2 separate regions of the Homo sapiens genome follow, and region 1 is linked to region 2. Evidence: fine-mapped expression QTL. Tissue or cell type: whole blood. Region 2 holds a variant in brackets; the other region holds the start of a gene. Each region is shown on its reference strand, or each on the opposite one. Region 1 holds the start of TPPP3 (tubulin polymerization promoting protein family member 3). Region 2 has its middle 33 kb from the start of NEK6.

What was found. PIP is the estimated chance that this variant, and not a neighbour inherited with it, causes the effect. A credible set is the group of variants that fine-mapping cannot tell apart.
Region 1: it holds the start of TPPP3, and the variant in region 2 is the best candidate, but not a certain one, in a credible set for the expression of TPPP3 in whole blood (TOPMed, PIP 0.58).

The regions. Positions count from the first base shown.
Region 1 is chr16:67,388,882-67,403,508 of GRCh38, reverse strand. TPPP3 (tubulin polymerization promoting protein family member 3) reads left to right here and starts at 10,011. Exons shown (of 4, transcript NM_015964.4): 1 at 10,011-10,129; 2 at 12,392-12,585; 3 at 12,877-13,030; 4 at 13,147-13,700. The coding sequence starts at 12,398. The coding sequence ends at 13,335. It overlaps ZDHHC1 (zDHHC palmitoyltransferase 1), which reads left to right. Exons shown (of 12, transcript NM_001323627.2): 4 at 2,377-2,552; 5 at 4,053-4,154; 6 at 4,565-4,689; 7 at 4,778-4,936; 8 at 5,185-5,297; 9 at 7,943-8,025; 10 at 8,229-8,322; 11 at 8,447-8,507; 12 at 8,616-9,357. The coding sequence ends at 8,899. It also overlaps the pseudogene RNU1-123P.
Region 2 is chr9:124,217,166-124,233,149 of GRCh38, reverse strand. No RefSeq gene overlaps it. Among named protein-coding and RNA genes, the nearest start is that of NEK6, 33 kb to the left of the region's middle. RefSeq lists enhancers at 14,041-14,400, 14,971-15,130. The variant A/G (reference allele first, on the strand shown) is at 9,571.

The DNA.
Region 1 (14,627 bases), not on the chromosome of region 2:
TCCACGGCACTGGTCTCTGCCCGGAAGCCCCTTGTCTCTCTCCCTGCTCCCAACACGCAGCTAAATTAGAGGCCGAGAACTAGCAGCCCATGGGCCAGTCCAGCCTGCAGATTTGTTTTTTTGAATTGAAGGATAGTTAACAAAGAAAATGCACAGATCTTAATGTTCCTTCTATAGGCATGTTTTTTAAATTATTTATTTCCTTAACATTTAAACATTGAGAGATCTCACATAAAAACCCAGACTTCTGGTTCCTTTTGAGAAGCCAGAAATTGGCCACACAGACCCTCATTCTTGCATTCTTGCAAGACAGCCGTGAGCTGGAGGCACACTTCAGCCAAACTGCTGGTTGGCACTCCACATGTTCCCCACAGCCACAGTCCCTAGCCAGGCCCCCTTTCCTCTTTGCCTGCCAGGTCCCTGGAATCCATTCCTCTCTGTCTCAGCTGAGACAATACTTCCTCAGGTAAGCCTTCTGGACCCCTTCAGACTAGATGAGGTCATTTGGTTATAAACTGGCATAGTCCCACGAACTTTCTTCATTGTAATTAACTCATTATTTGATTGATATCCATGTTTTTGGGCAGGAGTGGTGGCTCATGCCTATAATCCCTGCACTTTGGGAAGCCAAGGCAGGCAGATCACCTGAGATCAGGAGTTTGAGACTAGCCTTGGCCAACATGGCGAAACCTTGGCTCTACTAAAAATACAAAAATTAGCCAGGCGTGGTGGCGAACACCTGTAGTCCCAGCTACTCGGGAGGCTGAGGCAGGAGAATCACTTGAACCTGGGAGGCAGAGGTTGCAGTGAGCCAAGATCGTGCCATTGCACTCCAGCCTGGGCAACAGAGCGAGACTCCATCTCAAAAAAAAAAAAAAATTCCATGTTTTCCACCAGACTGCAGTCTCTTCAGTGCTAGGGACTCTTGCCCCTGCCGTATCCCTCAATGCCTGTCACAACAAAAGACCTCAGTAGACAGCTGAATGAATGACCCTGGGGGTGAGGCGGGAGAAGAGTTGGAGCAGGCAGGGAGTAAATGTTTGCCCTCATTCAGTGTCTGAAGAGTGGATGGCATGGTGAGCACAGTAGCTGGTGATAGCAGAGAGGTTTGGGAGGAGCCAGAGGGAAAGGGACCTTAGCACTGAGCAGAGGAGTGAATTTCAGTCAGAGAGCTGTTGAGACCCACTGTAGGGTTGCAAGCAGGGAGGGCTTTGGGTCTGAGCTTTTAAAAACTTACTCTGAGACCATGTGAAGCATAGACTCAAGGGAACTCAGACAGAAGGCGCAGAGTTGGGAGGCTATAGAGTGGCACAGGCAAGAGATGAAGACTTGGCCATAGGGATAGAAGGGGTAGTGATGGCCACAGGATTGTCTCTCTTAGCTATGCTTATGGCACATTAGGGCGGAGCCTGGTTTATGCAGATATGTAGAGAAATTTGGCTGCTGGGAGGAGGAGGAAGGGAGGAAAAGAGATTGGACAGCTGATGAATGAAGGATGGCAGATGGATGATGGGTAGAGCATGAATGATGGAGGGATGATGTCTGCCTGGCTAGCAAGAGGACCAGTGGAATTTTGGGCTGAAGTGGGTGTGATCAAGGGAGGGAGAGTGGATGGCTGCCTGGGTGGAATCTATGGGTGAATTTTTAAACATCAGACTTTGTAGCAAATTGTCAGCAAACTTGTCTCCTGCATTTGGCCCAGTCATTGAGCAGTTAGATCCTGGAAGAGCTGTTTCAGCTTCAGAGACTAGCCATGCTGTCCCTGGCCAGGCCCTGAACATGGCAGGCCATTCCAGACACTCAGCCCAGGACTCCAGGTGCCTAGATTCTTGGTAGGGGAGGTAGCAAGTGTCCGAATCCGTGTCTGCAAGGGGTTCTCCATCTGGCCCAGCTACTGAAAAGGGGGGTGGCTGCATCCCTTTTGGAGGTGACTTCCTATGAAAGCAAGATAAGGAAGCTGGGACTTAAACTTCAGGTTCTTGGACCTTAGGTGGGGTTGATCTCTTTCAGTCTCACATCACCATTTGGAATCTGAAACCAGAAACCAGCCTGAGGTCAGACCAGCCAGGGCCTGCACCAGGCCTGGAGCAGTGAGGCCAGGACCCTGCGATTGGGCACCTAGGTGGCGACAGCAGGCACTGCTGGCTGGCTGTGGACTCCTTTCCTAGATGGCCTCTCCCTCTTTCCATTTGGGGCATAGGGGTTACCTGGAGAGGTCTGATGAGGAGGCTTTGGGGGACTGGAGGTAGGAGGTGGCAGAGGCAGAGAATCTGCACAAAGCGGGCTGGCATGGCAGTGGGGAGTTCTCTGGCTGCAAGGAACGGGGCAGGACTCCCAGCCGGCAGAGTGGAGTGAGTCTTTAACCTGCTGGGCCAGTGCATGGGCGCCATCTTTGCTGGCCACCTTGTGGTGCACCTGACCGCCGTCTCCATCGATCCAGCAGATGCCAACGTGCGGGACAAGAGCTATGCGGGGCCCCTGCCCATCTTCAACCGAAGCCAGCACGCACATGTCATTGAAGACCTGCACTGCAACTTGTGCAACGTGGATGTGTGAGTGTGTGTGGGTGCTTGTGGCTGCCGAGTGTGCTGTGGGGTGTATGGTGGAGAGGGGGTGCCAGGGCTTCACAGACATCCCTGATGCCTCAGAACCCTCATGTTTTATGCAGTCAAGAACCTTGATGGCGTGACAGAGTATTGGGTTACTGAGAAGGTGAGGAGAAGGTGATTGGAAACAGAAGATCAGTAGTATTCCAGCAGTTAAAGGAGGAAACATTTGGCCCTGCCCAAACATTTCTAATGAGCGGCTCTGCCAGTGACACCCTCACATCTCTCGCCAGTATTCCCATATAGGGGTGGGCAGGGGTGTTGATGCCTGACACTCACTGTGTGCTGAGCTCTTCCTGCAGCCACCCCGCATGGCTTTCTCACTTCATGGAGGAGGAAGAGCCCAGCGCTTAGAAAGGCTGATAGGCCAGACACAGCCACTGATAGCGGAGCCAGATTCACATCTGGCCGGCCAGGCCCCTAAGCAGATACTGCTGCCCTGGGGTCTACCCAGGAGGAGTCTGAGGCCCAGGGGGGCCATTTGGCTTGCTCAGGTCCCTCTGCTAACATGGAGGAGTCACTACGTGCTGCGCCCCGCCACCTTGGCTGGTCCCAGCTACCTCTCTAGGGGCCCCTCTCCACCCTTCTGGAGCCCCCCAGTCTCCAGGTCTCGGGTGGGGGATCAGGGATGGGGATATGGCCCAAGGCCAGCCCCCACCAGGAAGCCTGTTGAAGGGGTCTGTCTGCAGACTGAGCAAGCCCCTAGCCTTAAGGCGCCAAGGACTTGGACATGAGGCCATCCTGCCATTCACTGGGCACCCGCCAGCACACTTTCCGAGCAGCTGCTCCAGCAGCTGCTGCCCATTGCAGGGCTCTGCCCTGTTCTGGGGGAGGGGTTGTGCCTTTGGGCCTTCCCCGGTGCCTCCCTGGGCTGGGAGACTTCCCCTGAGCCCCTGTGGTGAGCACCTGCATGCTCACGCGGATGGCAGCCTGCACTTCTTTTGCCTCTTTTCTCTTAGTCCACACAGACTGAAGTTTCTGGAAAAATGCCAGTACCATTCCTATAGAATGGCAGGGAAACAGGGGCCCACTGCCGGAGGTGTCGGGAAGGGCAGTGCAGGCCCTGGGCCCAAGCCTTGCTGTCTGCAGCTCCCTGGGCCCACACCTGCATCTTCTGGCTTCTCTCGGGGTCTTTGCTTGGAAAGGACGCCCATTTTCTGTTTCATGGCGCATCAGCTAGGCGCACAATCCCAGAGCAGGAGGGGTGCACCTCCTTACCCCTCCTGCGGCCTCTGGGGTCCCCCAGCTCTTCGGGAGCGCTGCCTCCTCCAGGGGACCCACCCCGCAGCGCCTGCAGAGGGCGCGCGCGCTCCTCGTCGCCTCGCTCGGGGCTGTCTCAGGCCTGGCGCTTGGTCCCTCCACAGACCCCACTCAACCACCCCGACCGGCCGGGCCGCAGAGCGGGGAATGAGCCGGCCAATCGCGCTGTGCCCCCTCTCCCTGCAGGAGCGCTCGCTCCAAGCACTGCAGCGCCTGCAACAAGTGCGTGTGCGGTTTCGACCACCACTGCAAGTGGCTCAACAACTGTGTGGGCGAGCGGAACTACCGGTGAGGACAGCCCGGCCGCACGCGGGCCTGGGGATGCACTGTCTGAGGGTGGGAGCCACAGACCTTGCAGCTCGCATGGCAGGCGGGCGGGGATGGGGATGCTTCGAGGACCTGTGCCCGTTTTATGCGGGGGTGCTGCCCAGAGAGAGTGATGCTCCTGGGTGCCGGCTGAGATGGCCAAGGGTGGGCCTGGAATCTTCCACCAAGCTGGCCCAGAGAAATGTGGGCTGCCTGATGGGGTGGCCACCCATCTTCAGTTTTGCCGTATGCCTTTGGCTTCTGAGGAGTTGGGGCTGTGGGGTCACCCTCAGCCCTCTGAGCCCATAGCAATGACCCTACAGCCCCAACTCCTATGGGCCTTCTGAGGCTGGAGCTCCGGGGAGCTGACAGCGACCCATGGCTGGGCCCAGGCTCTTTCTACACAGTGTTGCATCCGCTTTACTGGGCGTCCTGCTCCTGGTGCTGGTGGCCACATATGTCTTCGTGGAGTTCTTTGTCAACCCCATGCGTCTGCGCACCAACCGACACTTTGAAGGTCAGTTTAGGCTCCGGGCCTATTCTCACCCCCAACCCTGGTCACCCGTCACGTCCCCGGCTGAGCACACACTGCCTGTGCCTTGCAGTCCTGAAGAATCACACGGATGTGTGGTTCGTGTTCCTGCCTGCCGCCCCCGTGGAGACCCAGGCCCCTGCCATCCTGGCCCTGGCCGCCCTGCTCATCCTTCTGGGCCTCCTGTCCACAGCCCTCCTGGGGCACCTGCTCTGCTTCCACATTTATCTCAGTAAGTGCCTCCTGCACCTGCCTTCTGGAACGCAGGGGTCCTCAGATTGCAGGAAGGTGCCCAGTTGGACGGTGGACCCTGAAACCATGCCCCTGCCTAGTATGGGCTCACTATGGTGGCCAGGTCTCACCTGATGGCTTCGTGTATTTGGGGACACTGGTTTCAGCCTGGGGCTGGTTGTCCTCCCTCCTGTTCTGAGCTCCAGAGTCCCCCTTCCACCGCACTGAGCCCTCTCCTCCCCCCACCAGTGTGGCACAAGCTCACCACCTATGAGTACATCGTGCAGCACCGCCCACCACAGGAGGCCAAGGGGGTTCACAGGGAGCTCGAGTCATGTCCTCCCAAGATGCGGCCCATTCAGGTATAGAGGATGAAGGGTGGGAGGGGGCCTGGGTGTGGGGGGTGTTGGGCTGTGCAGCGAGCAGCCAGTGAGGAGACAGGGCAAGGGAGGCAAGCCTGGAACAGCCGCTGGGGGCAGCAGGGACCGGGCTTGTGCTGAGCGTGTGCCTGCTCGCCCAAGCGTGGGCACAGCCAGAGGGAGCCCTGTGTTTCCCGGACCCCACGTACACACCTGCCCAGGCGCCAAGCATGCGCGGGAGGGCATGGGATGTGGGAGCCTGGAAGCAAGCAGGTTGGGGCTGCAGCAGGAGAGAGAGGGATGGACCAGCGACGGGGTCAGTGATGGGTGGCCAGGATGGAGCCATCACTTCTCCTCATCCATGACCTTGAGCGCTTATACCCATTACCCTAATTTATGCTTAGAACAGCCTCTTCTGCAGATGTGCCTACTGAGGCCTAGAAGGTTAACCACAAGCTGGGTCTGGGAAGAGTTAAGGTCTCTACGCTCTGGCCGGCCTGGCCAGGCCAGTGGCTGACCAGCCTATCCCCATTCCCACGCCCCATGGCTTCCTGAGGTCAGCCGCTGGGGTGGGGGTGATCCAGTCGTCAAAGGAGCCCCTAGGGACTAGGAAGGCGGGGCCCGGGCAGGCTTTGCTGGGGGAAGGCTGAGCCCTGGATCCCGAGGCCTCATGGCAACTGGACACAAACAGAGGCTGGTGGGTGGGTTGGGGAGGGCCTAGGACCCCACCTCTTCTGTTCTTGTCACCAGGGCTGGACACTACTTGTGGGCCAGGCTGCCAGGACTGGGCAGGCCTGGGCCTGGGGCATGCTGGCTGTGGGTGGCGACTCCACTGTTACACCACCGTATACCTGCCCCAGTGCTGGGCTCTGATGGTGGCAGCTGTGCTGGGGAGAGGGTACTGTTTCCAGCCCCACATCAAGAGGAGACGGAGGCCCAGAGAAGTAGGCAGGAGACTTTCTCAAGCCTCATAGGCAGCACCCACTGAAGCAGGGCGGGCTCTTTGGCCCTGCGCTGCCAAGGCTTTGGGGCCAAATGTGGCCACAGCGAAGACATTTAATTTCTGTTCTGTCCATCTGCAGTGACTTGAGGGAGGCAAACCCGGGGGACAGGAGTGGTGTTCTTGTCCTCTTTTACAAAGCAGAGAGCTGAGGCTGAGGGCCCAGTACCATTCAGGAATGTACACGGTTTTGAAGGTCTCTGAGACAGTATCCTCTGGACAGCCATGGCGAGAGAGGACAGGGCTCTGAGTGGGGACTCACTGGGGACGCTTTCAGACTTCTTGAGCTGGCTAGGGCCTGGCGCCTTTCCCATCCAGGCCCCTCAGCTTCTGAGACCTCCTCTACTGCTGGCCCCTCCTCTGCTCCCCCCTCTGGAGCCCAGGGCCCCCCAGTGGGCTTTGCCCCTCTGCTGGCCCTAGAGGGTCACTGAGTCCACACTGGGGCAGAAAAGAGGTGTGGGGGAGAGTGATCTTGAGGTTTCCAGTCCCTGTGACTGGCCTCTGACCCCTGACCCCGCGCTCCTCGGCCCAGGCTGGCGCCCCCACACCCCTCTCCAGAGCAGCAGCCAGGGCAGAGGTTGGGCGGGGCCGCTGGCTGGGCTCCTCCCCCAGATCTGTCAGGGCCCTGCAGGCAGCCACCCACCCCCACCCCAGCAGGAATGCGGGAGGGGCCCCTCTCTGGAGCCGTTGCCCCCAAACATAGGCTTGTTTTAGAGACGGCCTTGCTGTTACAGTGTCCTCTCTGCATTAGTCAGGACGCCTCCGTCTCCATGGAAACGGCTGCTGAACTGGCGACAGCTGTCCGGGTGCTCCCGGCAACCCCTCCCGGCTCCCACCCCGCCCGGGACCCGCCCCCATCTCGCACCACGCCCTTCCCGGGCCTGCTTTCCCCAGGCTTTTGTTTCCTCACCTGGAGTCCTTCTGGGCAAAGCTGGGGCGAGTCCTGCGGGCGGGGGTGCAGGACTAGGCCACTCCTGCAACCCCCTGGCCTCAAGGCCCCTTTGCTCTCAGGGGTCGCGTCTGCACCCTCAGGGTTGCTGTGAAGATCAGGGCTTGCCCATAAGCCTGGTGCTCAGTGGGGCTGCGGCTCTGTTTGTTCCACCACCTGCTACCTTCCCTTTTGGTGTAGTGGCAGGGAGACCACCGCATGTGCATTTACGCAGCCCCTTCTCGGCAGCCTGGATCGTGGCTGGTCCTCTGTGAGGGCGAGGGGTGTGCCCAGGACTCAGCTCTGCGGGAGCTGGTGGATGCACACTCAGGCCTGTTTCTCAGCCAGGGGAAAACAATTGGTTCAGAGGCTGGATCCCTGGGGACACCAGGAGCAGGTGCGGGCAGCTCTGAGCTTCCCACCACTCCCTGGCTGAGCCTCTCTAAACTGGGCCTATAGACCCATGGGGGCTGGGAGCCTTCCTGCAGGAGGCAGAGGCTGAATAGATGAGGTAAGGACCTGGGGATGGGGCAAGGGCCAGAAATGGGTGTTTTAAGCCTTACCCTACAGATGGGGTTTTCCCAGCATGGCTGGGAGCCTGGCATGAGGCCTGAGATATCCCACAGAGGCCAATGAGGGCAGGACTGCGTGGGCTTAGGGCTCAGCAGGCTCGGGAGCCACACCTGGCCTCCCAGCCTCCTTGACTTCCACCTTCCCCAGGAGATGGAGTTCTACATGCGGACCTTCAGACATATGCGCCCAGAGCCCCCTGGCCAGGCCGGGCCAGCAGCAGTGAATGCCAAGTGAGTGCAACCTGGGCATGTGCCACTGGGCATCTCCAGTTAGCATGGCAGGGCCATCGAGGCAGGAGAAGGGGGTAGGCTAAGGTCGGGGCATGGGTCAGGCCCTTCTCTGAGCTAACAGGAAGGGAAGCTTCTCTCAGCACCTCCAGTGGGGAGGGATTTGGGGAACAGGCCCCAGGCTTACCCTCCTGCTTCCCCCTCAGTCCCTCCCAGTTTCTTGCCACCCGTGGCCAAGCGGAACCTCCACCACCCTCTTCCCCAGACACTCTCGCCCTGCCTCCCCGGATCCGACCCCAGGTAGGAGGGACTGTGCTGGGCCTCCGGTCCAGGTGGAGTGGGATAGAAAGAAGCCTCTACCCTGGCGCTCGCCTCTGCTTCTTTTGGCGATGTGGGGCCCTCAGGCTCCCCCGTGTCTCTGCAGAAAAAGAGGAAGAGGCGCGTGTATAAAGTGCGAACGTCTGAGACCTCGGATCCGGCGTCGGGTGAGCGCCTCTCCCTGTCCGGGTCCTGCTCTGGGAACTCGAGGGAGGGGAAGGCAGAGCCACAAGCGAGCCGCAGCCACTGGGCTCATGTTCCCTTCCCTTGCGCAGGGCCTAGGGCCCCCAGCCGCCGCTCCAGCTCGTCGACGGATTCCGCGGACGCCAGCCCTGTGCACGCCGCTGGCCCTGCCGGCGCCTACCACTCGGCGTCGGCAGAGTCCGTGGACGAGATTCCAGTGGCGCAGACGCGCCTGGGCAGCGCCGCTCTGGCCGCCCCGCGGGGCCGGGGCCGACAGCCCACGCTGGCGCGGCAGGCGCGTGCGCCCGCCGTTTTCGTGAGCCCGAGCAGCGGCGAGCCCAGGGCGCCGGGCGGCCGGGAGGCTGGTCTGGCTTAGCTGGGCCGAGAGGCCGGAGGGCCGAGTTAGAGCGGCCGGCCTGACTCTCTATGCAACACCCCATCCTTGCCGCACCGAGTGCACTTTAGGGGCCCCTACGGCCGGCGGGATCGGCCTCCCTCCCCCACGACTCAGCAATACCCGCCCCACCGGCTGTGATGCTCCAATAAACTTTTTTATGCTTTTGCGGACGTCGCGCTTACTTTCTTAATGGCAGGGGCCACGGGCCATCCAGAAGCCCGACCCTGGCCAGTGGACCGGGGGCGGGGAGGAGGTCCCTGTATAGTAGGTAGCCACCCAGGCTGCCCTGTGGAGGTGCTCACGTGCGGCTCGTGGTTAGGAAAGGCCTTAGAAGGCGGCCTGGAGGAGGTTATTTTTCTTAAAGATGGGCTTTGCACTGGGAGGCCGAGAGAAAGCAGGCTTTGGGCTCCGAAAGCAGCAGTGGGCGCTGAGGCTGCGAGGCCGTGGGGAGGTGGCGGCGAAAGGAGGGGGCCGAGCCAGGAGGTCCCGCAGCTTTTCCCCGGCAGCAGGGCTGCCGTCGAATGCCAGCATCCTGGGGCTGGGCGAGCGCGATTCGCTCGTAGGGAGTCCCCTCCCTTCTTCCCCACTGCTCCAGGCTCTGAATCCTACCCAAGAGAGCACGGGAGTTGTGGCCTGGGGGTGCCATCCGTTCAGTGGATGGCAGTGCTCTTGAGTCAACCGTATACCCCTGTCACTGAGGGAGAGCTCCTTCCCGATTCCCCAAGCCCCACCAATGCCCCGCGCAGCTCCCCAGTGGCCTCTGGTTGACTCTCTGGGGAGCTGGATCTCTTCTGGAGATTGGGGCCGCTTAGAGCTTTAGGCACATCCCAGGATGGGAGGCTGTTTCCTCAGGGGGCCGTCCGAAGACGCCCCGAACTGCAGAGCGCTGGTCTCGCCGTCGCGAGGACCGCGGAGTTGCGGGGGAGGGGCGGGATGCGGCTCCCGGAGAGTCTCGGGGAGGGCGGGGCCTCGTGGGCGGGGCCGGCGTGACCTTGGTCACTCTCCCGCCGAGACAGCCTCGGGGGTGGGACTCGCCGTCTCTATGGAGACCGAGAAACAGGGGATAATACGGCGGAGCCGCCTGGGCTGCAGTCCCACCCGGGAGCCGGCAGGGAGCGGAGCTGCGGAGCCGCCTGGTCTCCCGCGTCCATCGGTCCATTCCTGCGTCGTTCTGTCCTTCCGAACGCACACTTCAGGAGCAGCCGCGAGGTAGAAGCCCATAGGAGACCCAGATGCCCGCCACCCCAATCAGTATCCTGCACGATGAGGGTTGGGGGGAGCAGCCTGGAAAGGGTCCCAACCTCCGGCGGTCCCAGCCGAGGAGCCAGCTGAGCGGCCCTGCCCTGGCCCCAAGCATTCCACCTCGCAGCCCCCACCTCCTGGTCCGGCTGATTGATGACTCCAGCTGTCCCAGTGGGAGCGGGACGGGTGGCTCCAGTTCACGGGTGTGGCCACTCCATCCATGGCCTGCAGACCCATGGGGCTGCGGCCTGCAACCCAGCGCCACCTGACCGCGCTGAGATGACCAAGAATCCATCTTTCCACGGACAGGAGTGAGCACTGCACGCAGGATCCGCCCAGTGCTTGGGCCAAGCACCCTGTGGCATCCAAGCTCCCCTGGACGTTACCCTTGGTGAACCAAGTGCGGGTCTTGGGGTCCCTGGTGGGAGGTTGCACCCAGGGAAAGGGAAGGGGAGTGCAGCGTGGACTGGGGTTATGGTCCCTGTAACGTAGGAACCACCGGTGCTCACAGTCCCAGAAACTGCCACTTAGGGATGGGAGTGTGGTCACTGGCGAGGAGTTTTTGGTGGAAGATGGGGCAGCCGGGCAGAGCCCAGGCCGTGGTCACTGGAAGCCCTAGTGTAAAAGGCAGAGCTAGAAGATGGTTGCTGAGACCGAGGGTGTGGTCAGGAGGTGGCAGTGGAGGAGGGGGATGTGGTGGGGAGGTCTCTACGCAGGGGATCTCCGCATAGTACCTGGGAGTCTTATAATGTTAGTGTGTGGATGTGGACTGGGGCCTTCAGTGCAGGCTGAGGGTGTGGCCAGAGGGCTGAGGGTGTGTGGACAAAGGGGTGCTGAGGGTCAGGGCGCCTTGATAAAGGGCTGCGGGTATTGGAGGGGGTGAGTGGCTGAGGCTATGGTCAGGGGTCTCAGGAAGGGATGCAGGTTTGTGGCCAGGGGCCTCAGCCCCAGGGCTGCGGGTGTGGGGATGGAGAAGGCTGCTGTGTAGGCTCAGGGTGTGGCCAGGGGTCTGCAGCGGAGGGCTGTGGGTGTGGGGGGCACTTTAGTGCTGGACTGTGGGTATTACTGGGGTTGGCGCAGGCTTGTTAGTATATATGTGGGGGCTGGTGGCCGAGGGCTGTGGCTGTGGGTGTGAAGATGGAGGATGGAGGGCTGAAGGTATGGCCAGGGGTACAAGGCCCAGGGGGTGGCAGGCCAGGGCTGAGTGCACAGGGTCGCTGGGAATGTGGGCTGGTGTGGCCAAGTTCAGGGCGTGGCCAGGGGAGGTCTGAGGTGTAGACATGATGAAGTGTGTTTCAGCCACAGCCCCACTTGCCAGCACGACTCTTGGGGTTCGTAACTCTACAGCCCCCACGCTACTAGCCCCCAACCTCCTGCTCCCCCAAAACTCCACAGTGGGAGGTTACAGCACCAGTCGGTGGCAAGGGGCCAGGAAGCCACGGTTATGCCCTAGGCGCAGGGAGTGCTGGCGTGCCCCACCCGTGGGCCCCAGCTTCCCAGCCCAGCCCAGCCCCTCAGCACTGGGAGCTTCTCCCTGAGCTGCCCTGACACCATCCTGCCCTTAGCAACATTCTCCAAGCAGCACCACCCTCCCTTAGCAACCGTCTCCAGGCTTCACAAACTGTGGCCAGGCCAGCCCCAAGCTCCCCTCATGTTTTTGTTTAACAGCAAATAGTAACAAGGCCTTGCTGGACCAGCTGCACCCCTGCCCAGGGCATGCACCCGTGCCCAGACTGGCTCTTGCTGGGTCCTCATGACCCTTACAGAGATGCTGTCCTCACTGAATGCCTGCCCGACCAGCAGCCTGGCCTGGCCCCAAGCCAGCTTGGCATGGAGCTTCCAGGGAGGGGGCCTGCTCTGCCACCCTCACTTCCACCCAAGCAAGGCCTTGTGCCAGGGCCAGACAAAGCCAGGGCCCCAGCTGCTGCCCTAACAGTCTTTCTGGACAGTGCCACTCTGTTCCCTGTGGGCATCATTATTTCATCTGCTGAACCCTGCTGAGAGCCAGGGCTGGCATTAGTGACAAGACCGTGCCTCCCGGGGCTCTTCCTTGGGGCTCTGTGGCCCAGGGCGACAGTGACGGGCCCCTCTCCCCAGGCAGCTCCAGCACCAACTCTGTAGCAGAACCTGCCCAGGTCTTGCAGGTTTGAGGTAGAGGCTGGGATGTTCTGGGCTTGGGGGAGGGGAAGGGCAGATTGGCTGGGAGATGACCCAGGTGGGTCTCTATAGGGTGGCATGGCAGCGAGCACAGACATGGCTGGGCTGGAGGAGAGCTTCCGCAAGTTTGCCATCCATGGTGACCCCAAGGCCAGTGGGCAAGAGATGAATGGCAAGAACTGGGCCAAGCTGTGCAAGGACTGCAAGGTGGCTGACGGAAAGTCCGTGACAGGGACCGATGTGGACATCGTCTTCTCCAAAGTCAAGTGAGCCCTAAGCAGCCCCTGCTTCTCATGTTCCCAGGAGGTGGGGAACTGGGGGGCTGGAACCAGGGAGGACATCAAGAAGGGGTCAGGGAAACACCATGATCACGAAGGTCGTTCTTCCAGGGCAAACCTTATATCTATTGCCCTCCAGAGTTGCTGACCCCTGCGACTTCCCCAAACGTGGGAAAGAAACGCAATTGCATAATTTGTGGTGGCAGCAAATGTGTTTGAGCTTTCCCCTGGGGGAGAAAAAAGAAAGGGGAACCCTCATGGTGCCCACATGCCTGTCAGGGGGAAGTCTGCTCGGGTCATCAACTATGAGGAGTTCAAGAAGGCCCTGGAAGAGCTGGCGACCAAGAGATTCAAGGGGAAGAGCAAGGAGGAGGCCTTCGATGCCATCTGCCAGCTGGTGGCAGGCAAAGAGCCAGCCAATGTGGGCGTCACTGTAAGTGCCCTGCTGGTCTCGGGTGGCCACGGAATGGGGTGTGGGGAATCGTGGCTGTGGGTGGGAAGGGCTGGGCTCCCTCATCAGGTGCCCCTGGGGAAACTCTGTCCAAACAGAAAGCAAAAACAGGGGGTGCTGTAGACCGGCTGACGGACACCAGCAGATACACGGGCTCCCACAAGGAGCGCTTCGATGAGAGCGGCAAGGGCAAGGGCATTGCGGGACGGCAGGACATCCTGGACGACAGTGGCTACGTGAGCGCCTACAAGAATGCAGGCACCTACGATGCCAAGGTGAAGAAGTGAGGCTTGGGAAGACCGCCCTGCCAAGTGCGGCTGCCCCTGCCAGAGGCTCAGGCCTGGGTCTAAGGGGCACGTGGAGCAAGAGATCCTGGTCCCCTCCCTGCTGGACCTGCCACCCAGAGCTTCCTGCCTAGTCCCACTGGGCTGGCCCACCAGGCCTCTGACCCAGGCTGCTCTGCGGCCCCTTCCTCCTCCTCTTCCTGCTCCAACTTCTGTCCACCTGGGGACAGTCTGTGCCTGTAGCCTCATGACCCCAACCCAGCCCCAGGCATGGCTAACCCCTGACTGCTTGCCTCATATTTAAGCTGCTGCTCTGGCCAAGTGCCTAATTTTAACCCAGACCTCAATAAAGACACCTTTTGTACCAATATGGCCTGGTTGACGATGATGGGGGAATGACATTCACACTCCAGTGACCCCCTCAGTGTCATCACCCCGCTGCATGCCACACACTGCTAATCACTCCCCTTCCCCTGGCAGCCTTGCCCAGAAAAAGGCACTCATGAGTCCCCTTCTGTTAGCACAGAGCCATTCTGTCTGAGGAGACTCCTGGGGAAGTCCAAAGCCTTTTAGCTGGGCCTGACGGGAGTCCTGACATCAAAGCTTGCCTTCCTGTGACCAGTGCCTTGGGTTTGGAGAGTTGGCCCCCTCTCCACTTTCACAGCAGTAGGAGGGATGAAACAGCCGACTCAGCCTGGGCCAAGCATTGGCAGAGGCCCCAGAGCCAGGCATCAGCTTTCAGTCTGCGAACAGGGGCTACCGAGGCAAGTCATTTTGGGTTCTGGCTCAGAATACAGAAAACGCAGGGCCAGGCAGAACCTTAGAGAGTAGCTCATCCAGGCCGGGCGCGGTGGCTCACGCCTGTAATCCCAGCACTTTGGGAGGCTGAGGCGGGTGGATCATGAGGTCAGGAGTTCAAGACCAGCCTGACCAACATAGTGATACCCCGTCTCGATTAAAAATACAAAAATTGGCTGGGCATGGTGTTGCGTGCCTGTAGTCCCTCCCAGCTACTCAGGAGACTGAGGCAGGAGAATCGCTTGAATCCAGGAGTTGGAGGTTGCTGTGAGCCGAGATCACGCCACTGCACTCCAGTGTGGGCAACAGACACTTTGTCTCAAAAAAAAAAAAAAAAAAAAAAAAAAAAAAAGAGAGTAGCTCATCTGACTCCGTAATTTTATAGCTGAGGAAACATCCAGAGAGGTGGAGGGGCTTCTGCAGACTAGAGGCCAGACCATGCCTCTTGCCTCCCAGGCCAGGCTCTTTCTAGCAAGCCCCAGCATTGACTTCCAAAA
Region 2 (15,984 bases):
TGGTCACAGGATGTGTAGGGATGCCCTCTCTTTCTTTCTTTTTTTTTTTTTTTTTTTTTTTTTTTGAGACAAGGTCTTGCTCTGTCACCCAGGCTGGAGTGTAATGGCGCTATCATAGCTCACTGCAGCCTTGACCTCCTAGACTCAAGGGATTCTCCCACCTCAGCCTCCCAAGTAGCTAAGACTACAAACATGAGCCACCACACCCAGCGAATTTTTTTACTTTTTGTAGAGACAGGGTCTCGCTGTGTTGCCCAGGCTGGTTTTGAATTCCTGGCTTTAAGCAATCCTCCTGCCTCAGCCTCCCAAAGTGTCAGGATTACAGGCAGAGCCACTGCACCCAGGCTTTCATTTTTCTTGTTGGTAATTTGTGTCTTTTTTTTTTTCTTTGAGATGGAGTCTTGCTCTGTCGCCCAGGCTGGAGTGCAGTGGCACTGTCTCGGCTCACTGCAAACTCCACCTCCTGGGTTCAAGCAATTCTCCTGCCTCAGCCTCCCGAGTAGCTGGGACTTCAGGCACACGCCACCACATCTGGCTAATTTTTTGTATTTTTAGTAGAGACGGGGTTTCACTACATTAGACAGGATGGTCTCCATCTCCTCCCCTCGTGATCCTCCCACCTCGGCCTCCCAAAGTGCTGGGATTACAGGCATGAGCCACTGCACCTGGCCCGTGACTTTCTCTTTTCTACTGATTGAAGATGAAGTTTATCAATGTTGTTGATGTTTTCAAAGAGGCAGCTTGTGGTTTCATTTATTTTCTCTCTTGTTTTTCTGTTTTCTAGTCATTGATTTCTACTCTTATCTTATTATTTCTTTCTTTCTACCTGCTTTGGGTTTAATTTGCTCTTCTTTATCTAGTTCCTAAAGGTGGAAGCTTAGCAAATGTATTTATTTTGGGACTTTCTTCCTTTTGAATAAAGCCATTTAATGTTATAACTTTCCCTTTATTGTATTGCTTTATCTGTATCACATAGGCTTAGATATGTTACATTTTCATTGTTATTCAGCTCAAAATATTTTCTAGTTTTCTTTGTGATTTCTTTCTATATATATATATATATATATATATATATATATATATATATATATATACTTTTTTTTTTTTGAGACTGAGTCTTGATCTGTCAATCAGGCTGGAATGCATTGGCACGATCTTGGCTCACTGCAACCTCCGCTTCCTGGGTTCAAGCAATTCTTGTGCCTCAGCCTCCCCAGTAGCTGGGATTACAGGCATGTGCCATCACACCTGGCTAATTTTTGTATTTTTTGTAGAGACAGGGTTTCACCAGGTGGGCCAGGCTGATCTCGAACTCCTGACATTAAGCGATCTGCCTGCCTCGGCCTCCCAAAGTGCTGGGATTACAGGCATGAGCCACCGCACCTGGCTTTCTTTCTATATATTCTTTGTTGATGTATACAGGCATACTAAAAGTTTTTTAAAATCCACAGGTGAAAAGGATGCATAACAACTTCTAGATGGGTCTTATTGCTGGGAGTGAAGGGTAGATGGAAATGGGATAAGAAAAGCGGTAGATATTAACAATGCTCACCACCATGTCAGTTCTCTTCTGAGCACATGAGAGGATTATACTTCACTTCCCCTTCGAAGCTGGACATGGACACATGACTTGCTTTAGCCAATGAAATGTGAGGAGAACTGACACATGCCGCTTCCAAATGGAAACATCTAAGAGCCAGCACCTGAGTCTTCTTGCTCCCTTCCTTACCTGGTGAATCTTGAAGCCTTTTGCTGAGATCACAGCATCATAAATAGTGGAGCATCCCTCAGACTGGGTTCCTAAGAGACTACAATGAACATAGCCCAATGTAGTCAACCCTCACTGGATCGAGAATGCGATAGAAGCAGACCTTTGTTGTTTAAAGCAACTGAAATTTGGGGTTTGTTTGTTACTACAGCATAACCTAGCCTTTCCTGGCTAACATGGGGACCTTTGATTATATTTGTAAGTTTTTTGTTTGTTTGTTTGTTTGTTTGTTTTTTGAGACAGAGTCTCGCTCTGTTGCCCACGCTGGAGTGCAGTGGCGTGATCTTGGCTCACTGCAACCTCTGCCTCCTGGTTCAAGCAATTCTCCTGCCTCAGCCTCTTGAGTAGCTAGGATTACAGGCACATGCCACCACACCCAGCTAATTTTTGCCTTTTTAGTAGAGACGGGATTTTGCCATGTTGGTCAGGCTGGTCTCGAACTCCTGACCTCTTGATTTGCCCACCTCGGCCTCCCAAAGTGCCGTGGTATGAGCCACCGCGCCCAGCCAGTTTTTATTTTTTTACGAGCCTAAAGTTTCATTTTTTAACAGGGGTAGCGGGTACATGAGTATTTGTCATATAATTTTCTACACCTCCCGTATGTTTTAAGTAACTGTTTAAAAAAATTTATTTGTATATTTTTTGAAGACAGAATCTCTCTCTGTCACCCAGGCTGGAGTGCCATGACCTGATCACCACTCACTGCAACCTCCGCCTCCCAGGATCAAGCGATTATGGTGCCTTAGCCTCCCAAATAGCTGGGATTACAGGTGCACACCACCATGCCTGGCTAATTTTTGTATTTTTCATAAAGATAGGGTTTTGCAATGTTGGCCAGGCTGGTCTCAAACTCTTGGCCTTAAGTGATCCTCTTACCTCGGCCTACCAAAGTGCTGGGATTACAGACGTGAGCCACTGAGCCTGGTCTGTTTTAAGTAACGTTTAAAGGAAAAACAACATTAGAGGAGAGGGAGAAGAGAAGAAGGAGGAGAAGGCACCTGGGGAGGTGGGTCCTTTTTTCTATTCCCCAAGTCGTTTCTCCATCTATCCTCTGGGTTTGGGAAGTCAGTGGGGAAAGGTTTGACTGTTTCTCCAGCCAGATAATCATCTATGAGCAGTGGCCCCTCACCCTCACTCTGCTTGTCACCATCTGGTACATTACATATTTAGTGTATGGTTATTGTCTCTCTCCCCTTGAGAAGAGGGACTTTATTTTATAACCCCAATGCCTAGAACAATGCCTGGCACACAGAAGTCACTCAACACCTGCTTTTTTTTTTTTTTTTCTTTTTTTTTGAGATGGAGTCTCGCTCTGTCCAGGCTGGAGTGCAGTGGCCCAATCTAGGCTCACTGCAACCTCCACCTCCCAGGTTCAAGCAATTCTCTGCCTCAGCCTTCTGAGTAGCTGGGATTACAGGCGCCCGCCACCACGCGTGGCTAATTTTTATATTTTTAGTAGAGTTGGGGTTTCACCATCTTGGCCAGGCTTGTCTTGAATGCCTGACCTTGTGATCCACCCACCTCGGCCTCCCAAAGTGCTGGGATTACACGCATGAGCCACCATGACCGGCCAATACCTGCTTATTAAATGAGCACGTGCAAAAGATCGCCTCCCTCACCCATGTCTGCCTAGGGAGGACAGTGACCACGTTCTGTCCCTATTCCATGTTCCTTCTCACTTGCCTTTCCCCCAGAGTGAACACCCAGTGGAACTGATGAAAGTGTAAGCAGCTCTTTACTCAAAGGTCCAGATATTTGGCTAGGCATGGTGGCTCATGCCTGTAATCCAGCACTTTGGGAGGCCGAGGTGGGTGGATCACCTGAGGTCAGAAGTTAGACCAGCCTGGCCAACATGGTGAAACCTCGTCTCTACTAAAAATACAAAAATTAGTTGGGTGTGGTGGTGGGCCCCTTTAATCCCAGCTACTTGGGAGGCTGAGGCAGGAGAATCGCTTGAACCCAGCAGGGGGCAGAGGTTGCAGTGAGCCAAGATCATGCCATTGCACTCCAGCCTGGATGACAGAGCAGATTCATCTACCAAAAAAAAAAGTCCAGATATTTGTTCCAACACCATGTTTCTGTGTTTTGTGTGTGCATATGCATGTGTGAGTCTGTCCGTCTGGGGCTGGGATGAGGGGACTAGGGGCTGTGCCCCTCATGCAGCCATTTCCTTCTACTCTATTCCCTGCCCAGGTAGGAGTCTGGTTAAGTGCACCCCGAGAAGCATGGAGAGACCCCAACTCCCCATCGGGGCCACCCTTCAGCCTCCGGGAGGGGCCTGGAACTCGGCTTTCTCCAGGAGATTTGGGGAACATGTTACCGGGGTCCTTCAGCGGCCTCTCATCCACTTCTTGGCTGCAGAAATTCCCTGGCCACCTGGGCACGGAGACACTCTGGCTCCACCAGCCCACGCAGAAGCCTGAACTCATGTAATTAGACATAATGACACATGGCGGGAGCTTCCAGAATCTCACAATCTAATGACACACCCACCTCCCAACCCACCTCAGGGGCCAGCAGAGCTCCTAATTAGGTCTGGCGCCAGCAGGTGGGAGATCCAAGGGTTGGGGGAGCAAGGAGAGAATCCTGGCCTTGGGGTTTGTCAACCTGTGTGCCAAGTCCAGTTTGATTACTTTTTGACTATGAGGCGCTGGGCAAGTCAATTCACTTCTTCAAGCCTCCATTTTCTCATCTGTAAAATGGGGTTTTGTATTTACACCACAAAGTGCTGTTGTGAGGAGTGTGAGTTCCCTCCTGCTGGGAGGCTGTCAGTGGGTGGGTCTGGGGGAGACTGGCCTGCCATGCCCAAGGCCAGGGCCTGTGTCCTGGGGTGGGACCTCTTTCAGGTGTAGGGGAAGCTGCCACACCTTCAAAGGCCGATTGGACAAAAGGCAGTTCTCCAAAACTCATTGAAGGACCACTGCCTCATATTACCGAATTGACTGGTTTTTCAAAAACTTGTTTAAGAAATATTCTTTTTGGCTGGCATGGTGGCTCACTCCTGTAATCCCAGCACTTTGGGAGGCCGAGGAGGGTGATTCACCTGAGGTCAGGAGTTCGAGATCAGCTTGGCCAACATGGCGAACAAAACCCCATCTCTATGGGTGTGGTGGCACACACCTCTAATCCCAGCTACTCAGGAGGCTGAGGCAGGAGAATCACTTGAACCCGGGAGGCGGAGGTTGCAGTGAGCCGAGACTGCGCCATTGCACTCCAGCCTGGGTGACAAGAGTGAAACTGTGTCTCAAAAAAAAAAAAAAGAAAAATTTTAAAATTATGTTTAATGTACATTCTTCCAATGGCTATATTCCATTTTAAGGACTATTTAATTTGTCCAAAGTTCATAATACATTTGCTCTTCTAGTGCTCCTCCTCCTCTTCTTCTTCTTCTTCTTCTTCTTCTTCTTCTTCTTCTTCTTCTTCTTCTCCTTCTCCTTCTCCTCCTCCTCCTCCTCCTCCTCCTTCTTCTTTTAGATGGAGTCTCGCTCTGTCACCAGACTGGAGTGCAGTGGCACGATCTCAGCTCACTGCAACCTCTGCCTCCTGGGTTCAAGTGATTCTCCTGCCTTAGCTTCCTGAGTAGCTGGAACTACGGGCATGTGCCACCACATCCAGCTAATTTTTGTATTTTTAGTAGAGACAGGGTTTTACCATGTTAGCCAGGATAGTCTCAATCTCTTGACCTCGGGATCCGCCCACCTCAGGCTCCCAAAGTGCTGGGATTATAGGCATGAGCCACTGTACCCAGTCTATTCTTCTTAAATAATATCCTATGAATATGTTTTTCACAGTATCACATGGGAACTTTAGCTTTTAGACTGATTGTTTTTAAAAACCTCTGAAAAAAAGTAATTTTCTGTCTTATCAGAACTTTAGCATCTGAAGGATCCTTTGAAGATTTTGTTAAATGGTCAACTCAACCAATTATCCAAATTTACTGCTTATCTCAAAATGTATTTCTCTTTTTTTTTTTGAGACTGAGTCTTGTTCTGCCCCACCGGCTGGGGTGCAGTGGCATGATCTCGGCTCACTGCAACGTCTGCCTCCTGGGCTCAAGTGATTCTCCTGCCTCAGCCTCCTGAGTAGCTGGGACTATAGGAGTGTGCCCCCACGCACGGCTAATTTTTGTATTTTTGGTAGATATGGGGTTTCACCGTGTTGGCCAGGCTGGTCTCGAACTCCTGACCGCAAGTGATCCACCCACCTCGGCCCCCCAAAGTGCTGGGATTACAGGCATGAGCCACTGTGCCTGGCCTAAACATGTATTTCTTTTAATTATATTTTTATATTTTGATTTCACTTTCAAAAAATTTTACATGCATTTTGTTCTGCAAGACTTAACAATGAAAAACAGCTGTCTCCTGTCTAATCCATCTTTGCTCCCAGTTCCCAACCATCAGAGGTAACTGCTTTTTAACAAGAAACAAGTTTCTTTTTTATTTGCCTTTATGCTTCCACTGTTATCACATGTCTATACCGTTATTTCTGGACTTTCAGTTTTATGTATAATCTACTCTCTTCTTACTTTGGAAGATTAGAATTTGCTTCCCATACCACGCTGCCCCTACTTCCCCTGGTACCATCTTCCTTATATGATCATCTCATCTCATAATTTTTGGTTAGATAAATATTGGGGGTTTATTTTGTGGCCATGTGAACAGTGTTGATAGCCCAGCAATGTAGAGTACTGTGATTGCATTTATTCTCTTGTGCAGCTTTCTGTTTTTCCTAGAATTGTTCATTTTCTGTCTATTTATTTATTTAGAGATAGGCTCAAGCTATATTGCCCAGGCTGAACTGGAACTCCCGGGCTCCAGTGCTAAGCTAATATCCTGTTCTTCACTCCATTTACATCCCTAGTTTTAACCTGGTTCCATCGATGTTTCTTACCTGAAATAATAATTATGATCATATTTGACAAAGGTGGTTTTCCTTCTTTCTGTATGATTTGACATTCTACTGTCAGGAAAAGCTTTCTCTTCTGTCCGGTTACTTATTCGTTTTTTTGTTTATAGCAGTTGGAGTCAGGGGTTTCTATTTTATTCAGTGGGTTATCATTCATTGCTATCATTATTAATTTTGATTTTTCAATTACACCAGATTTGGTGTGGCCCCATCCAGCTGGCCCCTGTGTCCCTTTGACATGTCCACACTATGCTTTGAATGCTTAGTGACTTTTTGCCACAACAAGGTGTTCCAGGTTCATCTTGTTCTTCCTCTCTCCCAGCCAGGACTCAGCCTTCCTCCAAATGGCATTTTGAAAACAAGATCTTGGCACTGGGTATGTTCATTGCTACCAGAGCATTGCTGCTCCCATACCTTCTTGGTGAACAGAGCTGAAAATACACACACACACACACACATCAAATATGCATATATGTATACACATATGCATGCAGGTGCATATACATGTATATATATAGACACACCTTTCTGTCTATATTCTCTCTCTCTCCACATAAACACAGATTCTCACCATGTGTTCTCACTGAGAGCTCCAACTCCAGCCCAACACTATGGGCTTCTTCAGTTTCCTCCTTTTTTTTTTTTTCTGAGACGGATTCTTACTCTGTCACCCAGGCTGGAGTGCAGTGGTGTGATCTCGACTTACTGTAACCTCTGCCTCCTGGGTTCAAGTGATTCTCCTGCCTCAGCCTCCTGAGTATCTGGGATTATAGGCACACGCCACCACGCATGGCTAATTTTTGTATTTTTTAGTAGAGATCAGGTTTCACCACGCTGGACAGGCTGGTCTTGAACTCCTGACGTCAAGTGATCCGCCCGCCTCGGCTTCCCAAAGTGCTTGGATTACAGGTGTGAGCCATTGCACCTGGCTTTTTTTTTGTTGTTGTTGTTTTGTTTTTTTTGAGACAGAGTCTCACTCTTGTTGCCTAGGCTGGAGTACAGTGTCACAATCTCGGCTCACTGCAACCTCTGCCTCCCGGGTTCAAGCAATTCTTCTTCCTCAGCCTCCTGTGTAGCTGGGACTACAGGTGCACACCACCATGTCTGGCTAATTTTTGTATTTTTTAGTAGAGACGGTGTTTCACCATGTTGGCCAGGCTGGTCTTGAACTCCTGACCTCAGGTGGTCCGCCTGCCTCCGCCTCCCAAAGTGCTGAGATTACTCGCGTGAGCCACCGCACCCAGCTGGTTTCCTCCTTTCTGCATCTGTGCCTCCCTGCCTCATCAAGGAGAAACCTGAATCCTCTTGTCCATGCTAAGCTATACCTCTGCTCTGCCCCGGTGCATACCCATCTTTGATTGCAGCAGGCTGCCGCCCAGGTCCAGCCTCACAAGGGCCACTGTGACTGTCATCCTCGAGCCTCATGATTTTGACTGGATGCACTGAGAAAGGTAGGCAGGCAGGAGGAAGAAAGGAAAGAAGGGAGAGATACAGAAAGGCAGCGAAGGGGAGAGGGAAAAGACAGGCAGGCATGGGATGGGTTTTTAAAGCTTTAGAAGATTTCTTGGATTTTCAGGAATGTTCAGTTTGTCTCTACCCCATGTCCCTGATGCTGCCACTGGAGGGGAACAGAATAGAGATCTAAGCCCAGTCTGGGCTGCAGGTCCCAGAGGTGAGAGGGATCTGAAGGCCCCAGATCCTGACCCCCCGTAGCCATGATGGCCTTGCTAATTCATTTCATGCACACAGTGGGAACTTTTACAAATTAAAACAAAATGAAAAAAAGCTCACTGGGGTGGCTCATGCCTGTAGTCCTAGCACTTCAGGAGGCCAAGGTGAGCAGATCGCTTGAGACCAGGGGTTTGAGACCAGCCTGGGCAACATGGCGAAACCCCATCTCTACAAAACATACAAAAATTAGCCGGGTGTGGTGGTGCATGCCTGTGGTCCCGGCTACCTGGGAGACTGAGGCAGGAGGATGGGTGGAGTCCGGGAAGTTGAGGCTGCAGTGAGTTGAGATTGCACCACTGCATTCCAGCCTGGGTGACAAGAGCAAGGCCCTGTCTCAAAAATAAATAAATAAATAAAATGTTTTAAGTCGGGATAGATTTGTTAAGCTCAATGATCTGGTGATATGGCACAGTGACCCTTTGACTAACTGACTTAGCCACGGTAGGTGTGGAAAGGGAAAGTGGTCTCTACTCACGGGCTCTGGGGTCCCTTCCTTTTGCACCCACGGTAGCTCTGCTCATTTGCATTAGTACTGTCTGGCTTTGGATTATATTTCTTTTGATAAAGGGTTTGAAAGAAAACTGAGCTGGGCGCGGTAGCTCACACCTGTAATCCCAGCACTTTGAGGGGCCGAGGCGGGCAGATCACCTGAGGTCAGGAGTTTGAGACCAGACCGGCTAACATGGTGAAACCCTGCCTCTACTAAAAATATGAAAAAATTAGCTGGGTGTGGTGGCACGTGCCTATAATCCCAGCTACTCAGGAAGCTGAGGCAGGAGAATCGCTTGAACCCAGGAGGTAGAGGTTGCAGTGAGCTAAGATCACGCCACTGCACTCGAGCCTGGGCCACAGAGTGAGACTCCATCACAAAAAAAAAGAAAAGAAAAGAAAGGAAACTGAGCCTGAGTTCCAGTCCTCCTGGGCCTCCTTGCTGGGTGACCCTGGGCAAGCCTTTCCTTCCCTGAGCTTCAGTTTCCTATCTGGGAAAGGACAGGTTGGATGCTGAGTTCTGTGCATCTCAGTGTCAGGTGTGTTGCACACATAGCTGGGGACCAGCCACCAGTGCCCAGGGAGGGCCACCAGTTCCCCAGGCAGGGGAGGGAGGAACCACTTTCCCCACCCTCTTCCAGAGAAACAGGTCACTGGCTGGGCTTGGGCCTGCAGCC[A/G]AGGGGAACTCAGAGACAATAAGCCCAAGTCACCCAGCTGGCAGGTTGTGCAATTTCCACCAGCGCCTGCAAACAAGATGTTGGCCCCTGAACTTTGGACTCTGGGCAGCCTTCTCCCCACCCCTCAGACCTAAACCACCCAGTTTAGGGGACAAGGCTGGGGGTGGGCAGGGTGCTCACTTAGTTCCAAGGACAGCCAGGTGGCTCTGGGCGCCTTGAAGAGAGAGGGTCCCACCAAGGAGGGTGTCAGAGCACCTGGCTGTGGGGAGTCAGTGGAGGAGGCTGGCCATTGGGGAACTGTCAGAGTGTGTGTGTGTGTATGTGTGTGTGTGTCTGTGTCTGCATGTGGACAGGCGGCACCTGTGAGCTGAGTTGCCTCTGCCTATGCATGGAGCCATGGTTACTCTCAGGGGAGTGACATCAGCAGATTGTCGGATGCTGGATGCTGCTTTGTGACTGCAGGGTGGTCCATGCACGAGTCTGTGAGGGTATGATGTGTGTCCTCGTGTGTGAGTCATCCTGGCTATTGATAGGCGTGTGTGTTATCTGTTTGCATGCATGTATGTAATGGGGCCCATGGCAGAGTGCAGATAGGTGAGACTGCACACACGTGTGATTCTGTGGGGGCACGTGCAGGTGTGTGGCTCTGATTGTGTGCCGATGAGTGTGCATGTGGGTGTAAATACACGCATGTGTGCACAATGGTGGGTGGGCATGTTTACCATCAAGGATACGTGTGTGTGTGTGCATGCCTGTGTGAGCCCCATTTGCTGGGCCTGTGGTCTCTGTGGTGGTACTATGGTTTGTAAACACGCATGACCTCTTTACTACACATGAGTGCAGGTAACATGGATGTCCACGCAAGTGCCAGTGTAGGACCCGTGTCCCTGGAGCTTTGGCCCAGCTTGTCACACGCTTCACCCCCTGTGCCCCTACCAACCTGTCAATTACTTTCATGCTTCCAGCAAGTCTCTATTCTGAACCTCAGTTTTCCCATCTGAACTGCATAGGAGGAGGTTGGACTGGATGAGCCCTCAGGCTCCTCCTACCTGTGCAGCGACTTGGATACCGCGTCACAAAGAACATGCAAACATGAGGAAAGTGAGAGCCCAGAACGCCTAGAATTTACCTCAGTCCCTGGCTGAGGGACAGGAAGCTTTGAAGTGACAGATGAAGCTAGGGACCCAGATCCTGGGATAGGGCAGGCCCAGCAAGGGCCTGAGGGACCCACTGTCTTCCGTCTGGTGAGCCACCACCATGGGCTGGAGGGAGGGGACTGACTGATGGGACCTCTGCCGGGGAACCTGGAAGGGCAGATGGGAGTGGGGAGGCCAAGGTGGGAGGACATCTGTGAGCAGCCTCCAAAAGGAATCCCAGAGACACTAGGTGGGAGGCAGTACCACCCCTCTACTCACAGAAAGGAGTCTGTCCCCACTCCTTTGTTCCTTAAGGAGTGGAACCCTGGGGCAGCTGTCTTGACACAGAACGAGCCTTCATTCCCCTTAGGGCTGGTTCCAATATTTGAGGCTCCAGCCTGATTTTCAACAGATGCTGAAGGGGAAGGAATGGATACCCTGCTGAATGCCTCCCCTGTACTAGGCACTTTGCTAGTGTGCCAGGAAGGGCTTCTTTGCCCCCTTCACTACTTTCTTCTCTCCCCTGGTTCTCGACAGCTCCACCCACCCTTTGTGCAATAAGTCTTCAGGAAGGTGAAGTAGAGAGACAGCAGAGTAGCGCAATGCTACTCCACCTATGTCACAAGAGACAGTCAGTGGTAGCATGAGAAAGCTTTGCTGTCTTGTAGTAAGTTTACTGCAAAGAGCTAGAAGGAGCTAGAGCCTCTTCCATTAGTCCCGCCTGTGACATGCCCTCAGGGGTCTGATGCTGCCCCTCTAGGATAAAAACTCTGTAAGTGGAGAAGAGAGAGACAATTCTTGGGCCAAAGATGCCCGCTGTAAAATTCAAGGCCAGTCAGAAAAACAGAAACCACTCTAGGTATTTCCAACAGAGGAAATTTAATATAGGGAATTGGTTACCTGGAAGAGGGAAGAGCTGAAAAGCCAAACAGCAAATGGTGAGGCAAGTGCTTGTTCCACAATGGCAAAAGGTGCTACCACTTAGGGGTGGAGAGACAAAAGGAAGAGGCAGTGATACTGCCCAGGAGTAACTTGAATCATCAGAGCCACCTGGAGACTTGGAACTGCAGATGACCGGGTGGTTCTAGAGCAGCCAAAGACACAGAAGAGAGCAGCCTGTGCTGGGGAAAGGCCACTCCCACTCCCTCCCTAAGCAGAGGGAGGGAGAAATACCCAGATTGTCCCCTCCTCCCATGCTCCAATCTCCTGCCAGTGCTTCCCCTTGGCCCAACCTAACAGGAAGCCAGTTGGCAAAGGAAACTGGGAAAAGCAGTTTGCAGGAGAGGGGCAAGCACACAGGACTGCCCAGCACACTTGCCCACGATGCACACTGCAGGGGCTGAGAACGTGTTGGGAAAAGCAAAGAAATACTTGGCAGTGTCCCCAGGACTCTGGGGATATGATTAACTGTTGATCAGAGTTTCATGGACTGAACACACATACGCTTCCAGGGAACACACTGAACACACATACGCTTCCAGTGTGACCTGCTCCGTGAGTGTGGCTTCAAATTGTCTCCACCACAGGCCAACAAATTTAGGACAAGCCTCCCTCCCCATGCTGCAGTGGAGGAAACGGAAGCTTTAGGAAGAGAAGTGCCTTCTACAAGCTCCACGGCTGGAAAATGGGCAAAGTCAGGACTCAAACCCTGGTGACTCCAGGGCCCCAGGCCTGGGAAAAAGGTGAGAAGTCAGGTGTCAGGTGTTACCCTTGGGAGCAGATGCTGGTTATTGATCTGAGTTGGAGGCCCTGGGTAAAATTCTGAGAAGGAGAGCGGCGTTGAGCTTGAGTGAGGCTGACTGGGGAGAGAGCTGTTGATGGTGAAATGGGAAGGGGGCATAGTGTAATGGTTAAGGGTGGGACTTAGGAGCCCAACAGTTTGGTTCAGATCAGCTCTGCCATTTACTAGTTGCGTGACTTGATCTCTCCATGCCTCAGTTTTCTCTTCTGTTAAATAGGAGTCATAGTGATCACAGTACTTGCTTCATAGAACTGTCATGAGAACTAGCGTGTTGCATAAGCGATTGCTAGGATCATTGTTGAGTCCTTACGCTGAGCCAGTACTCTACCAAACACTCTACCTACATTATCCTATTTCATTCTTAAAAACAAAATATCGGCCGGGCACTGTGGCTCACGCCTGTAATCCCAGCACTTTGGGAGGCTGAGGCAGGTGGATAACGAGGTCAGGAGATGGAGACCGTCCTGGCTAACACAGTGAAACCCCGTCTCTACTAAAAATACAAAAAATTAGCTGGGCGTGCTTGCAGGCGCCTGTAGTCCCAGTTACTTGGGAGGCTGAGGCAGGAAAATGGCCTGAACCCGGGAAGCGGAGCTTGCAGTGAGCCGAGATCGCGCCACTGCACTCCAGCCTGGAAGACAGAGTGAGATTCTGTCTCAAAAAAAAATATCGGCCAGGCGCGGTGGCTCACACCTGTAATCTCAGCACTTTGGGAGGCCAAAGTGGGCGGATCACCTGAGGTCAGAAGTTGGAGACCAGCCTGGCCAACATGGCAAAACCTCGTCTCTACTAAAAATACAAAAATTAGCCGGGTGTGGTAGCACATGCCTGTAATCCCAGCTACTAGGGAGGCTGAGGCAGGAGAATTGTTTGAACCCAGGGGGCGGAGGTTGCAGCAAATCGAGATCACGCCACTGCACTCCAGCCTGGGCGACAGAGGGAGATTCCATCTAAAAAATAAAAAAATAAATTAAAAAAGGTCCTTTTTATTCCCATTTTTACATGTGAAAATACTGAAGCTCTGAGACATAAAGCAACTAGGTTGAGGACGAGCATCAGTAGGAAGTAGAATATGACTGCAAAGTCCTATCCCTGGGCGGCTGCACCATTCCCTGTTTTGTTTCTCAGTCCTTCCATTGGAAGACAAGCCCCTGTATTAAATCCCTTCTGTTCAAAACCTAGGGCATTTCAGGCTTCCTGATGAGATGCTGCCTGATACAGTAGTTACTGTTTATTGTGGGTTTCCTGGGAACGGGCACTCTTCTATGCACTTTACATACAGTAATGTATCTAATCATGCCCTGCTCATCCTATGCATTAAGTGCTATGATCTCACTCGACAGCAGAGGAAGGAGAGGGGAAGCCACTTGCCTGGGATCCTGCAGCTCATGAGGGGCAGAGCTGGGGTTTGAGGACATGAGGTTCAAATCCAGAATCCACATCCTGACCCATGGCAGGAGACCACCCTACTTGCTGTTGGCCATCACTACTGCCAGGCAGCAGCCAGCCCACCAGAGCCTGGCCCTGGTGGCAACCAGTTAGCCTCTGTGACCTCCCCATCTGACTCCATCTTCCCCCTCTGCTGTGGACCTTGTCTAATTTCTACCCACTTCAGAGACTAGGACAAAGATGGCATCTCCAAGGCATTCTCTTCTCCAAGCTGAAGACCCCTGTGTCTGGGAGGGGCTGGGAGGTGAGGTGGGGCCTTCCTGGAGGATACTAAAAGGGCTCCTAACCCTGGTGTCTCTTCCCTCCCAGCCTGTCCCTCTTATGCCACTCATGGCATCAATCCGTCCAGAGGGACACTCCGATGACTCACCCACCACAGCACTTTCACTTCCTTCTTCTCCAGAGGAGGCGTCTGACCTGCTGCAGCTGCACTGAAGGGCCTCTTCTCAGGGGCTTCCAAGGCTATAGGGGGCGGCCAGGGGCCCTGCTGCAGCCTTGAGGTCCAGGCCTGGGGCCTAGAGTGCTGCCTCTGTAGGGAGCAGAGTGACCGGAGGGGCTTTGGGCCTCCTTGCTAGAGACTGGCTTCAGCTGAACCCTGTCCAAATTGTCAGTCACCCTCAACACCCATGCAGGGTTGGCACACAGGGAGATGGACCTTGAGTTTTTTTTTGAGACAGAGTCTCACTCTGTCGCCTAGGCTGCAGTGCAGTGCAGTGGTGCGATCACAGTTCACTGCAGTCTCCACTAACGGGGCTCAAGCAATTCTCCCACCTCAGCCTCTCGAGTAGCTGGGATGACAGGTGCATGCCACAACGCCCAGTTAATTTTTGTAGAGATGGGGTTTTACCATGTTGCCCAGGCTGGTCTTGAACTCCTGGGCCCAAGCGATCCGCCCACCTCAGCCTCCAAAAGTATTGGGATTACAAGGGTGAGCCACCATACCCAGCTGACCTGGAGTTTTAAAGCTGGAGTTGTATCTCTCATACTTCCTGATGGCATTGAAGGGACCCATATTCATTCATTCACTCATTCATTTACTCCTTTATTCCCTCATGTAACAAATCTGTCCTGGGCTTCTATATACCAAGCAGTCCCTAGGGTACCAAGAAACCAGGGCTCGCCCTCTGCCCATGAGGAGCTCATGGCCCATCTATGGGTGGGGGTTGTGGGAGTGGCGGGTAGCAGGGCGGATCCATAAATAGAAAACCCCGGTACAGTGAAAGCGGGCCTTGGAGAGGGCTGGGGAAGCCCAGGCAGTGCAGTGGTTGTGGTTAAGTCACAGGGCACCGCAGGGTGGACCTAGGATTTGTGAAGTCTGAAGCTTTTCAATTTTGGAAGCCCCATCTGTAGAAACAGAATACAAAATTAGATTCAAAAGCATTTATTTAGAAGGAGAAAACAAAACCCAAGACAGTATCAAGGGCTTGGAGATACTTCTGAGATCCCTTCACACAGTTTACCAGAAATGTTTACATGGAAATGCTTCCTCATTACAAGCTGGTTTCCCTCTCTCCCTAGAGTACTCTATAGCTCCCAGCTACTCCAGGGGTGCTGGGAAGGGCAAGGCTGAAAATGAAGCTTTGCTAGGGTCACAATGCAGCCTCCTTGGAGCAGGCAAGTTGCACAACACTGATCCCATCCCAGTCTCAGAGGATAGTGCATGGTTCAATGACCTAGCTGTGGAGTCAGACCTGGGTCACACTCCCCACTCAGCCATTTTCTGACTATGCCACCTTGGGGAAGTTGCTCATCTCTGAGCCTTGGTTCACTCGTCTGTAACATGAAGCTATTGATAGAACCACACATTGTGTTTTTGTAAACATTCAATGAGATCATCCATGCAGAGCAGTTCATAAACATGAAGCACTGGATGAACGCCACTGTCACAGTGAATGCCACTATTCATGATGAAGGTCTGTGGCTGTCTTGTCCTGCCTCTCTCTCTCTCTCTCTCTCTCTCTGTGTGTGTGTGTGTGTGTGTGTGTGTGTGTGTGTGTGTGTGTGGTGGGTGGTCAGGGAAGGCTTCCCAGAAGAGGTGACATTGGTGTTGGGCCCTAAAGGAAAATGTAGAGAAGGGCATTCCAGGCA